Regions from separate parts of the Homo sapiens genome. Here all the other regions are linked to region 2. Evidence: fine-mapped expression QTL. A gene starts in region 2. Each other region holds a variant in brackets. All regions are shown on one strand. Distances are from middle to middle. Region 1 has its middle 180 kb from the start of RBM43. Region 2 holds the start of RIF1 (replication timing regulatory factor 1). Region 3 overlaps NMI (N-myc and STAT interactor).

Region 1 (5,231 bases), 330 kb before region 2:
AGAGAAAGCTCTACAACATTGGTCTTGGCAAAGAATTTTTGGATATGACCCCAAAAGCATAGGCAACAAAAGCAAAAATAAACAAATAGGATTGCGTCAAACTAAAAAGCTTATGTACAGCAAAGAAAACAATCAACCAAGTGAAGAGGCAACCTACAAAATGAAAGAAATATATTTGCAAACCATACATCTGATAAAAGGTTGATATCCAAAATATATAAGGAACTCAAACAACTCAATAGCAAGATAACACATAACTCAATTAAAAAATGGGCAAAGGGACTGGGTGCAGTGGCTCATGTCTGTAATCCCAGCACTTTTGGAGGTCAAGGCAGGCAGATCACTTGAGCTCAGGAGTTCAAGACCAACCGGGGCAACATGGCAAGACCCTGTCACTACTAAAAATACAAAAAAAATTGCTAGGCGTCATGGCATGCACCTGTGGTCCCAGCTACTTGGGAAGCTAAGGTGGGAAGATTGCTTGGGCTCAGGAGGCGAAGGTTGCAGTGAGCTGAGATTGTGTCACTGCACTCCAGCCTGGGTGACAGAGCCAGACACTGTCTCAAACTTAAATTTTTAAAAAAAGAAATGGGCAAAGGACCTGAAGACAAATGGCCAAAAGATATATGAAAACATGCTCAATGTCACTAATCACCAGGGAATACAAATTAAAACCACAATAAGATGTCACCTCACACCTGTTAGAGTGGCTATTATAAAAAAGACAGGGGATAGTATTTGTGAGGATACAGAGAAAGGGGAACACCTCTATACTGTTAGTGGGAATATGAATTAGTAGAGCAATTATGGAAAATTAAATGGAAGTTTCTTGAAAATCGAAAGTAGAACTACCCTATCATATGATCCAGCAATTCCCCTTCTGGGTGTATGTCCAAAGGATATGAAATTAGTATATCAAACAGATGTCTGCACTCCCATATTAACTGCAGCATTATTCACAGTAGCCAAGATAGAAAATCAACCTTAGTGTTCACATTTACTTATGTAACAAACCTGCACATCCTGCACATATACCCCTGAACTTAAAATAAAAGTTTAAAAAAAGCTTTTTAATAGAGCAAAAATAAATAAATAAAAATTTTTAAATCTTAGTGTTCATCAATGAACGTTTAAAGAAAATGTGGTATATTGTGGTATAGATATACAACGGGATACTATTCAGCCTTTCAAAAGAAGGTAAGCCTGTCATTTGTAACAACATGGATGAACCTGGAGGACATTATGCTAAGCAAGATAAGTCAGGCACAGAATGATGAATGCTACATGATCTCACTTATATGTGGAATCCTTAAAAAGTCAAATGTGTAGAAATATACAGTAGAATGGTGTTATCAAGGGCCTAGGGTTATGGGGGAGGAAGAATTGGAGAAATGTTGGTCAAGGGATACAAAATTTCACTTAAACAGGAGGAATAAGTTCAGGAGAGCTATTGTAAGCACGATGAGTGACTATGGCTAATAACAATGTAAAGCATACTAGAAAATTGCTAAGAGAGTAGATTTTAAATGTGTTCACCAAAAAAAATGATAAGTATGATGATTTAGCCTTTCCACAATGTATACTTATATCAAAGCATCATGTTGTACAATTTTTGTTTTATTTTGTTGTTTACTTTGTTATTAACTAGTAAAAGTATATAATTTTTACTCATCAATTAACAAAATTAAAAATTACAATTTTTTAAAAATAAAACAGAGTTAGAAAGAACTTACCAAAACTGTAATCCAGCTTTGATATATCTCAGTCCCTGATTGGATTAAGGTGAGCAGTTCTACTCTATCTGCCTGGAAAACGAAAAGTAAAACCTCTTTGGAGGAAGAAATCATTATTTGAACCTCTACAATTTTTTTCTTACCTAATGTCTCATATTCAATCAACAATTACTAGGCATGACAAAAGACAAGATCATATCAACAAAACTCAAGACAAAAAAACAGGAAATAGAAACAGGCCCATAATGACTATATATTGGAGGTAGCAGAGAGTGACATTAAAATAATCGTGATTAATATGTTCAGGAAAACAGAGGAAAAAGTGGCAAATCTCACCAGAGGACTAGAATCTATAGAAAAGAATCAAATAAAAACTCTAAAACTGAAAAGTAATATCTCTAAAATTAGGAACTCAATAGTTGGTTTTAAAACAGGTTACATATAAAGAAAGGAGACTAGTGATATAAAAGACTGGTAAA[T/TA]AAAAAACCCAAAGTGAAGAACTATGAAGAAAGGACTAGAAACTATTTTTAAAAGTAAAACCCAACTAGGTCAGTCAAATGGCATAATATATATGTAACTGGAGTCTCAGAAAGCTAAGTGAGAGCTAGAGAATTGAGTAGAATCACTATTTACAGAAAAAATAGCTGAGATCTTTAGAAACTGATGAAGGATGTTAACTTGCAAATTCAAGAAATGCTATAAACCCCAAACAGAATAAGCAAGAAGATTATTTGCTAATTAAGTAAATGAATAAAGAGTCGATGCCATAATCCAAACCTGTAAGCATATCATTGCCATGGCAATAAAAAATTGGCTTAGGCAGCCCAGCACAGTGGCTCGCACCTGTAATCCCAGCACTTTGGGAGGCCCAGGCAGGTGGATCACCTGAGGTCAGGGGTTCGAGGCCATCCTGGGCAACATAGAGAAGTCCCATCTCTGCTAAAATTACAAAAATTAGCCAGGCGTGTTAGCACGCACCTGTAATCCCAGCTACTTGGGAGGCTGAGGCAGGAGAATTGCTTGAACCCAGGAGGCAGAGGTTGCAGTGAGCCGAGATCACACCACTGCACAACAGCCTGGGTAACAGAGCAAGACTCCGTCTGGGAAAAAAAAAGAAAAAAAATTGGCTTAGGAGCAAGAGAGACAGCCATTTCTAAGGCCACCATCAACTTTTATGTTCTTGTTGGCATGACTAAAAGAGATGGAGGAGCTGATCTATTATTTAGCCAGTTGTGTATTGCCTAAGCAGTTGATTCAACTCATTAGGGCATAAGTCACATTAGGGAAGGGATTTCCTTTCTTGCTCATGCTCTACCCTCAGTGCCTGAACTGTGACTTTTTCACAGTAAGAAATCAACTAACATTTATGGCATTAATGAATGAACCATCTAACCATTCATTCATCCTCAAAGATTACTGCCAAATATGCATGAATTTTCTTTCAATGGAATTGCAAATAATACTTATTATCTCACTCAACTTTATCTCTGGGGCTATGGGCAAATTGCTGACATATTATTTTAAGTGCTGGCCCACAATTTTAAAATAGGAGCTCATCTCTGAGAATATCTTGAACCAATGGACACTTCTACTTAATTTTCACACACTTATCTACCAACTTATTATTGCACTGGTCCACCTTATTAACCTTTTATGTTTATCAGCTTGGATGATACAGGTTACAGACAATAAACAAAGAGGTGTCCTCAGAATTATTGCTTGTTGGATTATCAGATTCCAGTTTTTTTTTCCATCATACTTTTTTAAAATTGAATGATCTGTCAGTTTTTCACAGAAAGTTTTTGAAGAGAATCTTCAGATATGCCCTTGGTTAAGTCACTTCTTTCTGGGCATCCATTGCTAATCAGAACAGAAGACAGTTAGACCACAACAGAGGCACAAATAGAGCAAAACTCTGAGTGGATGGAAACTATAGATACATCTTATTTTACCTGCAGAGAGGTTTTCTGGGGGTGGGGGGTTATTTATGCGTGTGTGGCTGAGGGGGTGGTTGGTTGCCAATATATAAAAATGTTGTTACATAAAGATTCAAACATCCAACTTTCTAGCTACTTCAGAAGTCAGATCTGGCAACACTGGGTCCAAAGTCTCATGTGGTGGCCAAAGGAAAATTCCTCCTGTGTCCTCCAAAGGTTTGCTGAAAACCAATTCACAAAAAGCAGATGAATAGGAGAAAGGGCATACAAATTTATTTTAATGTGCATACATGGGAGAATTGTAGATTGATTACCTAATAACCCAACGGGGTCCAGATTGTTATATACCCTTCTTCTTAGGGGAAAGGGAGATGGAGCAGTGTAGATGACGTTAATGGGTTAGTAAATGATCTTTAGGAGAATTCAATGGGCTTGAAGAATATACAATGGCCTGGGACAGAGTCTGTTGGACCCTCAGAGCGAACAGTGGTTTGTGATAAAAATCTGTCCAGGTGTGTTGACAGACTTTAGTCTTCCTTCCTGCAACATAGTTCAGTTAATGAAAACTCATGGAAGGGACCAGAAGTCATCCTTTCCTTTTTTGGAGGGTCCAGATTTTAGGCAGATGAGAGTACTTATAAGAGTAACTTAATCCTGTACTTTGGGAGAGACAGGACTGAGAGAGAGGACGGTGGGTGGGTAGGTCAGAAAGATCTTTAGGCTTCTTTTTCAGTTCAGCATGTCAAAGGGCCATATTTTGGGGGTATTGTTTTCTGAGCCTCAACATTCACATGAGAACAGGTCAGGGCTACCCTCTTCCATAATAGCTTGATTTCTCTGGTTCTCCCCGTGCCTTCAAACCCACATTACCCCTTAATGTGACCTGACCCCTGAACTAGGTGAGTCCTGATTTCCTTGTGTATGGAGCATTCTGTTATTTTATAAAATACTGTCAATTAGTGTATTAAGCCATTCTTGTATTGCTATACAGTACTGCCTTAGACAGACTGGGTAATTTATTTTTAAAAAGAGGTTTAATTGGCTCGCAGTTCTGCAGGCTGTACAAGCATGGCCCCAGCATCTGTTCAACTTCTGGGGAGGCCTCAGGAACCTTTTACTCATGGTGGAAGGTGAAGTGGGAGCAAATATTTCACATGGCGGAGCAGGAACAAGGGAGAGGTGGGTGCCACACATTTTTAAACAACCAGAACTCACGAGAGGTCATTCACTATCACTTGGAAAACACCAAGACATGAAGGATCTGCTGGGACTCAGTCGCCTCCCACCAGACACCACCTCCCACATTGGGGACTACATTTCAACAAGAGGTTTGAGAGGACACAGATCCAAACCATCTCAATTGGTATTGGATGACTAATAAGCATTTCATAAACATGTGCATTGGTTAAAACTATGTTGCCACTATATATGATTTATTTATGTTTAAGATCATAGGCAAAGTTGATGCTCTGAGTCTCAGTTTCCTCATCAGTAATGAAGGGAATAGGTTGCTAAATGAGGGGCTACTGGGGCCTAGTGGTCCTATGCAGCCCACTGCCCT
Region 2 (5,225 bases):
TGACCTCAGGTGATCCACTTGCCTCAGCCTTGCAAAGTGTTGGGATTATAGGTGTGAGCCACCTGACTCTTATTTATTACTCTTGAAGAAGGTAATTAATATTCTAAATACATGCTCTGAATAAAAGTCTTCAAAGACACAGAGAAGCTGGAGATCTTAGCAGACTGTTCAGAATCTGATGAAGTGGGAGTAATCTGGAGATGAAGGACAAGCAGTGGCCCAATCATGATAGGCTTGCATGTTATGTCAAAAGTTTTGAAATCCATCCTGTTACTGATGGGAATGGCTGGAGAACTTTAGGCACAGGAATGACAATGATAAAATCTTACATAACATTTTTGAGCTACTTATAAGGCTGAGGCAGGAGGATCATTTGAGCCCAAGAAGTTCAGGGCTGCAGTAAGTCACAATCACACCACTGCACTCCAACCCAGGTGACAGAGCAAGGCCTTGTCTTTAAAAATAATAAAATTTAAAACATAACATTTTTGGAAGATCAAAGAACCATACATATGAAAGAAATACAAGCAACATGACCACCGTAGTCCTTTCATTACAAATGGGAAATTATGAAAAAAATAAAGCAAAATCCCTGTTCTCACAGAATTTATGTTCTAATGAATGGGTAGAGGCAGGCGTGGTGGCTCAAGTCTGTAATCCCAGCACTTTGGGAGGCCGAGGCGGGCTGATCACGAGGTCAGGAGATCAAGACCATCTTGGCCAACATGGTGAAACCTGTCTATACTAAAATACAAAAAATTAGCTGGGCGTGGTGGCGCATGCCTGTAATCCCAGCTACTCGGGAGGCTGAGGCAGGGGAATCGCTTGAACCCAGGAGGCGGAGGATGCAGTGAGCTGAGATCAGGTCAGTGCACTCCAGCCTGGGTGATAGAGCGAGACTCCGTCTCAAAAAAAAAAAAAAAAAAAAAAAAAAAAAAAATATATATATATATATATATATGTATATGTATATATGTATGTGTGTGTGTGTATATATATAAATATATGTAAATAAATATAAATATATATAAATACATATAAATAAATAAATATATATATAAGCATACTATGTATGTACTGCGTCGTTTGGCAGTCATTTTGCTAAGTGCAGATGACACAAAGAAGAGCAAAAAGCAACATCCCACTTCTAGAGCTGAGAGTTGCAGCACATGTGAGTGAGGGCTCAAATCCTGGGCCAGGAACCCATGATGGAGAGTTCCATTGCTGCTGGGCTTCATGTGTCTGATTTAGAGTTAATGCAATCCTGTCTGTTGTGGAGAGTGCACGAAGGCATATGAAAAGGGGAGAAGCAGACCGGGCGCGGTGGCTCACGCCTGTAATCCCAGCACTTTGGGTGTCCGAGGCGGGTGGATCACGAGGTCAGGGGTTCGAGACCAGCACGGCCAAGATGGTGAAACCCCGTCTCTACTAAAAGTACAAAAATTAGCCAGGTGTGGTGGCGGGCGCCTGTAATCCCAGCTGCTCGGGAGGCTGAGTCAGAGACTCGCTTGAACCCGGGAGGCAGAGGTTGCAGTGAGCCGAGATCGCACCACTGCACTCCAGCCTGGGCGAAAGAACGAGGCTCCGTCTTAAAAAAAAAAAAAGGCGGGGGAGGAGCAGCATATTCACAGTAAGGAGAAATGACTGTCATTGTGTTTACTGACGTTTCTCTAGGGAAGAAGCCCTGGCCAAATCCCACCCTTCAACCCCCCAGGGGCCTAACAGAAGAATGCACATCCTCGGGAGCTACCTAAATCTACTGAATTACAATGCATATGGGCGGGGCCCAGGAATCTGCAGTTTAATAACGAATATCCCCAGGCCATTGTTATGTACGCTTAAGACCTGAGAACCATTGGCCTCTCCAACCTTTTCTCACTTCACCTATTAAAAGCCCTATTTTATAGAGGAGGAAATTGAGGCATAGGTTAATTAACTTGCTAAAGTCACATGGAACCTAGACCAGCTGGAATCTAGACCAGCTTGAGATACAGTTCTTTTCTTTTTCTTTCTTTCTTTTTTTTTTTTTTTGAGAGACGGAGTCTTACTCTTACTCTGTCGCTCAGGCTGGAGTGCAGTGGCGTGATCTCGGCCCACTGCAACCTCCGCTTCCCGGGTTTAAGCGATTCTCCTGCCTCAGCTTCCCAAGTGGCTGGGACTACAGGCGTGCGCCACCACACCCAACTAATTTTTGTATTTTTGTTTTTTTTAAGTAGAGACGGGGTTTCACCATGTGTTGGCCAGGCTGGTCTCGAACTCCTGACCTCAGACTCGGCCTCCCAAAGTGCTTGGATTACAAGGTGTGAGTCACCGCGCCCGGCCAGCTCTTAGTCTTAAACCCAACAGTACGTTATCTCCTTTTGCTAACTGATTTGTTGCTAAAACTTCAACAAGCACTGGACTTGGAGTTTGAACACTTAGTCTGAGGGCCCACTATGTTCAGTCTAGTGAGTCTGAGCAATTAACTCACATTTTGAATTTCAAGTCTCTCGCCTTAGGCAAAACACCACCACCTGATGCTCACCAGAGGGGCGTGACGCGGCAGCTGGGCAGGGAAGGGATGGGAAGGGATGGGAAGGGAGGCGATCGATAACTCCGGTGTGCCGCTGACTGTTGGATTGGCTCGAACTTCTCCCGCCAGGCCTAACCTACTCCCGCGCACTCCTGGGCCCGCCCAGCCGCCATCTTGGTCTAGGAGGGAGCGCGCCGCACGCGTGAGTAAACAGCCGGAGCTGGGAAAGTCGAGCTCTGGCAGCGTCTGGGTGCTGAGGGGCAGAGGCGGAGAGAACCCTGTCCTGATCTTCCTAGGTGGGATAAATATCGGGGTGACAGTGGTAGGCCGCGGGGAACCCTCAGTCTGCCCACCCTCCGCCCCCTCGCGGCGAGATGCCTCGTTCCCCGGGCTTCTCCCGCCCTCCGCCGATCTCCTCCCTCTGTTGAAAGCTGCCCGGGAAAGTGGTGGCGGGAGCGGGCCCAGGCCCGAATGTGGCGTGGGCTCAGGTGTCTGGTGTCGGGCGCCGGAGGAGGTTCGCGCTGGGGTTTGGTGATTCGGAGGCCTGGGGTGCAGACGCGGCGTGGCTGTGAGGCCCGGGCGGGCGTGCGGGTGTGAGGGCCGGACTCACACTGGGCCGCCGCGGGGCTGTTTCCATCGGTCACTGGATTTTCTCCTCTTCCGGTTCGGGCCTCAGGGTGGCCGACATGACGGCCAGGGGTCAGAGCCCCCTCGCGCCGCTGTTGGAGACTTTGGAAGACCCTTCTGCCTCCCATGGAGGGCAGACTGACGCTTACCTGACTCTGACCAGGTGAGGTCCGCCACGGGGCGTAGCGGAGAGTGGGGCGCTCTATAGTGGGGAGAAAGAAGGTGGTTGGGAGGGGCGCGTAGAATGAATGTGAGTTCTAGAAGTCTAGCAAATGTGAGGACGCCCGAGTCGCGGACGCCTTGGGGGGCGGGGGAGATGTATTCTAGGTGACGTTCCCGGGTACTGCTGCTGCTGCGCTTGAGGTGTGTGTTTGGAACGAGGGAGCATGCACGTGTGTTTTGCAAGCGAGGGATTTTTAAAAGTTTCGGTTGGAAGTAGTTGTTGGAGGAGGGGTCTTCAGTGTAAACCTCCGATGTGTTGGGAAAATGTGGCTACCCAGAGTTTTTTTAACAGAGCAATACACTGATTTTTATTAATTGCAAAATGCTTCAAAGTAATTTTCATAGAAATGTACTAAAGTTTTGTAAAACCCTTTGGAAAGGCTTAGCAAATCGTTAGTAACTAGGAATAGGGATCCCTGTTCTGTCTTTTTGGAGTCAGGTTGTCACAACTTGCATGTACTCGATGTAAAAACTTATTCTGAGGGTTTTTCTACTTTCATTTCTGATATATATTGCATTATATATTCTGTATACCCTTAAGGACCTTACCTACTGGGTCAATTCATTTGCAGGAGTTAGAAAGTAATTTTTAAAAAGATTGTACATGTATTTTTGAGAGTATTTTTTTTTTTCCTGTCAACTACTTAAACTTGTGTTCTTCCTGCTTTTTAAGTCGTATGACTGGAGAAGAAGGAAAAGAAGTAATTACAGAAATTGAGAAAAAACTTCCTCGGCTGTACAAAGTTTTAAAGGTATGTATCTGTTTGTTAAACAGTTTTTCACTTTTGGTAGTTTGGTTTTTTTTTTTGGTTTTGTTTTTTTGTTTTGAGGTGTAGTTTTGCTCTTGTTGCCCAGGCGAGAGTGCAATGGCTCAGGCTCGGGCTCGGCTCACTGAAACCTCCGCCTCTCGGGTTCAAGCGATTCTCTTGCCTCAGCCTCCTGAATAGCTGGGATTATAGGCATCCGCCACCGCCCCGGCTAATTTTGTATTTTTAGTAGAGAAGGGGTTTCTCCATGTTGGTCAGGCTGGTCTCGAACTCCCGACCTCAGGTGATCCGCCTGCCTCAGCCTCCCAAAGTGTTGGGATTACAGGAGTGAGCCACTGTGTCCAGCCACTTTTGGTGGTTTTTAAAAGTTTTGCCAGTTGACTCAAAAGCTTTGAATCTAAAATAACAGCAATAATACTGATTATAATACTCTTTATTGTTACTTAAAGCTTCTCAGGTACTTTCTTAATTACCTTACACGCTTTATCACTTAACTCTCCATGGTTCCATGAGATTATTTCTTAATGATCACTTTGCAGGTGAAGAAATTAATTTAATTTGCCTAAAGTTGCCTAGGGGCACTTGAATCTGAGTTTGTGCTCTTGAAAGCAGAGATCAGAGATTAATCTGTTTTCTTTCCTTTTGGGAATCTACATCTAAGTAAGTGCTTCTAAAATTACAATTGTCTTTGGTCTAATCTAGGTAGCATTAATTTCTTTTTCCTCATTCACCCTCAGTTTTTGCTACAACCGTTATCATTTTTGCTTTAGGGAAATGATGTTTGACATCATACTGTGGACCTGTGTTCCTGTCTTCACTTGCCTACTTAATGGCTTCCTGACTATCCTTAACATCTTTTAAATTTCCTTGTTTTTAGAATGAAAAAGTTGAACTTTTATCTCCAAAGTTTGAGTTCTCATTTTTATGACCTTGTTCTCTTTTTTTAATTTTTTTTGTTTGTTTTTATTATGACCTTGTTCTTGTGCTTTTATTTTTGTTTTTAATTTTTAAAATTGAGGTGGGGGTCTTGATAGGTTGCCTAAGCCAGTCTTGAACTCCTGGGTCCAAGCGATCCTCCCACCTCAGCCTCCTTAGTA
Region 3 (5,231 bases), 130 kb before region 2:
AAAAAAAATTGTAACCTGAAAGATAAAGGTAGGTGGTTATACTTAGCTGCTTAGAATTATTGGGATTAACAGATTCATATAACTACACATAAATGCACAAATGAGATAGATGCTTGCATTTCTATTGCCCATGGTTATTTTACATGCTGAAAATAACACAGAGATTAGAAATATTCAGTGAGTCATTCAATTTAATCTTACATTTATTCTTTGCCTTTATGCATAACTCCAGTGGAACTTCTGATTACGGTAAGGCTGACATCAAAACAGTCTACAATGTCTGAGTAAAGGCAGAGTGTTACCCAATAATGCAGAAATACCCAGTATATGCTGAGGAGCAAGGGCTTTCTGAAATTAGAGTGAGAAAGCTTGATTCTATTTCTGACCACACTGCGACAGACAGCAAATTTACTTAAGCTCTCTGATCACAGGTTTGGTCCTCTGCAAAGTGGGTCGACTAGGGCTGGCCGGTTTCTAAAGGCTCTTTGAGTTATAAGACTGCATGATTCTAGCTCCAGTCTGAGAAGTAACCAGAATCTTAACAGAGTCTTCTGCACAAAGTCACCCATCTCATAAACACAGAAAACCTCACTTCCTGATATTCAATATCCTATCTCCCACTTCAGAAACAAGAAGTGTCAATGCTTTAATTTTTTTTTTTTTAGGCGGCGCCTCGCTCTGTCGCCCAGGCTGGAGCACAGTGGTGTGATCTCAGCTCATCGCGACCTCCGCCTCCCAGGTTCAAGCAATTCTCTGCCTCAGCCTCCCAAGTAGCTGGGATACAGGCACCCGCCACCATGCCTGGCTAATTTTTCTTTTTTAGTAGAGACAGGGTTTCACCATCTTAGCCAGGCTGGTCGTGAATTCCTGACCCCATGATCCACCCGCCTCAGCCTCCCAAAGTGCTGGGATTACAGGCATGAGCCACCGCGCCCAGCCTCAATGCTTTAATTTTTTAACATCTGAGTTGTTAAGAAAAAAAATGGGTGAAAATTATGTACAATTAAAATACAGGAAAATTTAGGAGAGAATTTAAATGGTGAGGATTAATATATGTCCAATTTTTTGAACCGTGAAACTCATCTAAATTACCAAAGCACCTTGGATGAGAAGAATTATAAAAGAACTCAGTGAGAAAAGCCAGAATTTGATCCAACAGTAATTTGCTAATGACCATCTTTTTTTGGTAAATTTTATTAATTTTTTGTTTTTGTAAATTTATTAAAGTGTACGTAAATAATAGAAAAATGCATGTATCATTAAGTACAGCAAGATGAAATTTTACAAAGCTAACACACGTGATTGGCACGCAGATGATAGGCAGGACATGACAACACCCCAGAAACCCCCTTGGGTTCCCTTCTGGGTCTTACCTGCTTCCAAAATAACCACTGTTTTAACTTCAAACATCCTGCTTTTGCTTAATTTAAAGGGAAGCATATGGTATGCCCTCTTCTGTCTTTTTTGTGTTAACATTGTGTTTATGAAACTCATTTGTGTTGCTGCATGTCATTATGATCTGTTCATTCTCATTGCTGTGTAGTTTTCTATCATATGACTATACCCCAATTCACTAATTCGTTCTACTATGAAGGAATCATTGGGTTGTTTTCCATTTTGAACTATTACAAATGGTGGTGCCATGGATGATGATAAGGTTTTAAAAATGAATTTTGTGTAATTAAAATGCTTTTTCCAAAAACCATGCATCCATCAAAAATGTAGTATATAAAATAATTAAGAGAGTACCTGGAATTCTTTGGTAGCCTCTTGTAACTCCGTTTCAAGCTTTTGGATCTCCTTCTTTAGTTGAATATTTTTCTTTGTAATTTCATCAATTAGTCCCTTAAAAATATCAAATGGTACCAAAGAAAGTAAATAGCCCCTGAACTCATTTTTCCGAATGAACTAAAGACTATAAATTTCTCTCATCCTGACCAAAGAAAGACATTAGACAGTCTCAGAATAAATATGACTATGTGAATAATGCATTTGTTGAATATTTTACATCATCACCTGTCTATTCTAACATTGCCAAGTAGTACTATCTCCATTATATAAATCAGGAAACCACCTTTTACACTAGACCGAAGTCACAGAAAGTTGTATAGTAAGGCAAAGATTGAGATCAGATCTTCTGAATATTACTTCAGTGCTGCATCAACTCCTTTCCTAGCTATTTGTGAGCATGATAAGACTTTTAAATTGCACTGTAATAGCGGACATATTCTGGGGCAGTTTGTTGTTGGTGTTGTTGTTGTTTTTGTTCTTAATTATCTGTGATTCCCATAGTATCGCATAGTACACAGTTACCTTAATGAGCCAGACATATGACCTTGGGGAAGTGGTTTAAGCTACCTGGGCCTCCGTTCCCTCTTGGGGTCTAATGAGATAATTGCTGACTATGCTCTTAACTTGTTGATGCAAATCCAAGAAATGAGGGTGTGAGTGAGAAAGCAGCTAGTGTTGTAAGCCTTATAAGAGAAAGAATAAAAATATGACACTTCTTGTAAGGCTTAAATAACATAATGGAAGTTAAAAATTTTTTTAAAGCCTAACGGCCTCCCAAATTCAAGGTAATGTTGGACAAAGACATACAAAACATGCCTTACTGCAAAACTAATAGATATAAAATAATTTTTAATAATACCCAGTAATTTCCTTTTTACCTTATTTTGTTCATCTTTTATAAATTCATCTGGCGAATGCTCCTTAAGAATTTGTTGTGTGTCATCTTTATCAGCTTCCATGATCCCCTAATATTATAAAAAATAAATATTATAAGCATAGCATATATACACAAATTTAAGAACAAAGAAATAAGAACTTTTACCCTTTTATGGAAGAAACATCTCTTCTTTGCTATATCTTTTTTTCCCATCATCAAAGGCTTTATTATCATATGGCTTATATCCAAACAAAGTCTGTATTTTAATAACTCCTTTTTTTTTTCTTTTTTTGAGACAGAGTCTCTCTCTGTCGCCCAGGCTGGAGGGCAATGGTGCGATCTTGGCTCACTGCAACCTCTGCCTCCCAGGTTCAAGTGATTCCCCTGTCTCAAGCCTCCCAAGTAGTTGGGATTACAGGTACCTGCCACCATGCCCGGCTAATTTTTGTATTTTTAGTAGAGATGGGGTTTCACCATGTCGGTCAGGCTGGTCTTGAACTCTTGTCAAGTGATGCACCCCCCTCGGCCTCCCAAAGTGCTGGGATTACAGGCGTGAGCCACAGCACCTGGCCAATATTTCAAATAACTTTCACACCTATAATATATAAAAAGATTCTAAAAATCCTTTGCTTTTCAACAAAATAATATA[T/C]AGAAAGTAATGAACATTAATGTTCCTTTGTAGTTCACATTCCAACCATAATATCATGCTCCATTTTAAATGAATACTATTTTGGTTTTCCAACGTTTTTCAAAGTTTTTGATTAAAATATTTAATTCTCCCTATTGTTCTCCCCAAATGTAAACAAAGTCAAGAGGCCTCCAACATATGCTTTCTCTACGCAGGTGTTCTTACCTGAAGCTTTCACTAACTCTCCTGCTGGGTCCATAAACATGGATTGGGAAGAAATTATATGTTTATTTCTAATAACCTCTAATTGAAGCTTAGCATTCTCTTCAATTATGAATATGGTAACAAACTACAGTAGTATTCACAGCACCTGTGATAGTCACCAATAGAAAGCACAGATAGTTTCATAGAATATTGTTGCAGATATGCTAAAATAGTTTGTGTTTAACATTGCTTCTACATTAGTTACTAACCTCACCACTAGGTCTTGTAATATATTGTAATACATTGATATATATCACTATATCAAACATTTGCTTTTTAAATATTCTGATAACCATATTTCAATACAATTGATTTCTGGCCGGGCGCGGTGGCTCATGTCTGTAATCCCAGCACTTTGGGAGGCCAAGGCGGGTGGATCACAAGGTTAAGAGTTTGAGACCAGCCTGGCCAACATGGTGAAACCCCGTCTCTACTAAAAATACAAAAAAAATTAGCTGGGCGTGGTGCCAGGTGCCTATAATCCCAGTCATATTTCAATACAATTGATTTACTTTGTAATTCTATGTATTTTATTTTATGCATTTAATTTTTTTTTTAGATAGGGTCTCACTTTGTTGCCCAGGCTGGAGTGCAGTGGGGCATGAACACGGCTCACTGCAGCCTCAACATCCCTGACTCAAGTGATCCTCCCACCTCAGCCCCCCAAGTAGTTGGGACTACAGGTATGTGCCACCATGCCCAGCTAATTTTTGTATTTTTTGTAGAGATGTGTTTTCGCCAAGTTGCCTAGACTGTCTCGAACTCCTGGGCTCAAACAATCCGCCCCCCTTGGACTCCCAAAGTGCTGGGATAAGCCACCATGCCTGTCCCCACAGGCATTGACTAAATGTTTTTTTTTTGGAGAAAGGCCCATAGGATTTGCCAAGCTGGCAAAGGAATCCATGGTACACAAAATTTAAGAACTCTTGCCTACATATGAATTTACTGAGATGAAAAACTCTCAGATCAAAAATGGGACAAAGGATATCATGATTCTATGTTTTTAGATACACATTAATAAACAGTCTGCCATATAATTTTCCAAGATTTCAAGTGGCTAAATTCTCAATATTCTTGAAAAAGAAATAAAAGACATCTATTCCTCCTTAAAAATAAAATAGAAGACTAGCAAAAACTTAGCTATGTCTTAGTTTAATGAACACAGGAGTGTCAAAAAAAGAGGAGAGTCGCATAACACCCAGATCTTGGTTTCTAATAATATTCTTCAATAAAAGAAACCAGGGCTCATTGGAGCAATGGCTGATTCTAGGTCTGGGGTATAAAATATACAAAATAAGCCTGGAATATCTTGTAGTGCCAGAAAAGTAAAAAGCACTAAAACACATGCACAAACACATACAATATGATGGGAGTATGTGAAAGGGACATGGGGACCCAACTGAAAGGGCTCCAGTGGCCAAAAGTACATACACAGAATTGATCAAGTAAGTAAATATATGGAGGATAATAGGAGCCAAGTTTTTCACCGTCAGAGAAGATAATTATAAATATGGAAATGGAGAAAACAAGAATAAATACTGTTGATTGGAACTAGATTTCAATGTAATCCTGCAGCTGTGGTTTCTGATTGATGATTGAGATAGATAGATAGATAGATAGATAGATAGATAGATAGATAGATAGATAAATAGACAGACAGATAGAAATACC

What was found. PIP is the estimated chance that this variant, and not a neighbour inherited with it, causes the effect.
Region 1: its variant is the best candidate, but not a certain one, in a credible set for the expression of RIF1 in whole blood (TOPMed, PIP 0.50).
Region 3: its variant is the best candidate, but not a certain one, in a credible set for the expression of RIF1 in whole blood (TOPMed, PIP 0.67).

What each region holds. Positions count from the first base shown.
Region 1 is chr2:151,075,849-151,081,079 of GRCh38, forward strand. No RefSeq gene overlaps it. Among named protein-coding and RNA genes, the nearest start is that of RBM43, 180 kb to the right of the region's middle. The variant T/TA (reference allele first, on the strand shown) is at 2,213.
Region 2 is chr2:151,407,226-151,412,450 of GRCh38, forward strand. It overlaps RIF1 (replication timing regulatory factor 1), which reads left to right and starts at 2,677. Exons shown (of 36, transcript NM_018151.5): 1 at 2,677-2,808; 2 at 3,189-3,302; 3 at 4,035-4,113. The coding sequence starts at 3,199. RefSeq lists enhancers at 1,588-2,286, 2,287-2,985, 2,590-2,749 and a silencer at 1,590-1,884.
Region 3 is chr2:151,280,199-151,285,429 of GRCh38, forward strand. NMI (N-myc and STAT interactor) reads right to left here. Exons shown (of 8, transcript NM_004688.3): 2 at 2,670-2,756; 3 at 1,750-1,845. The coding sequence starts at 2,750. Among named protein-coding and RNA genes, the nearest start is that of NMI, 6.9 kb to the right of the region's middle. The variant T/C (reference allele first, on the strand shown) is at 3,318.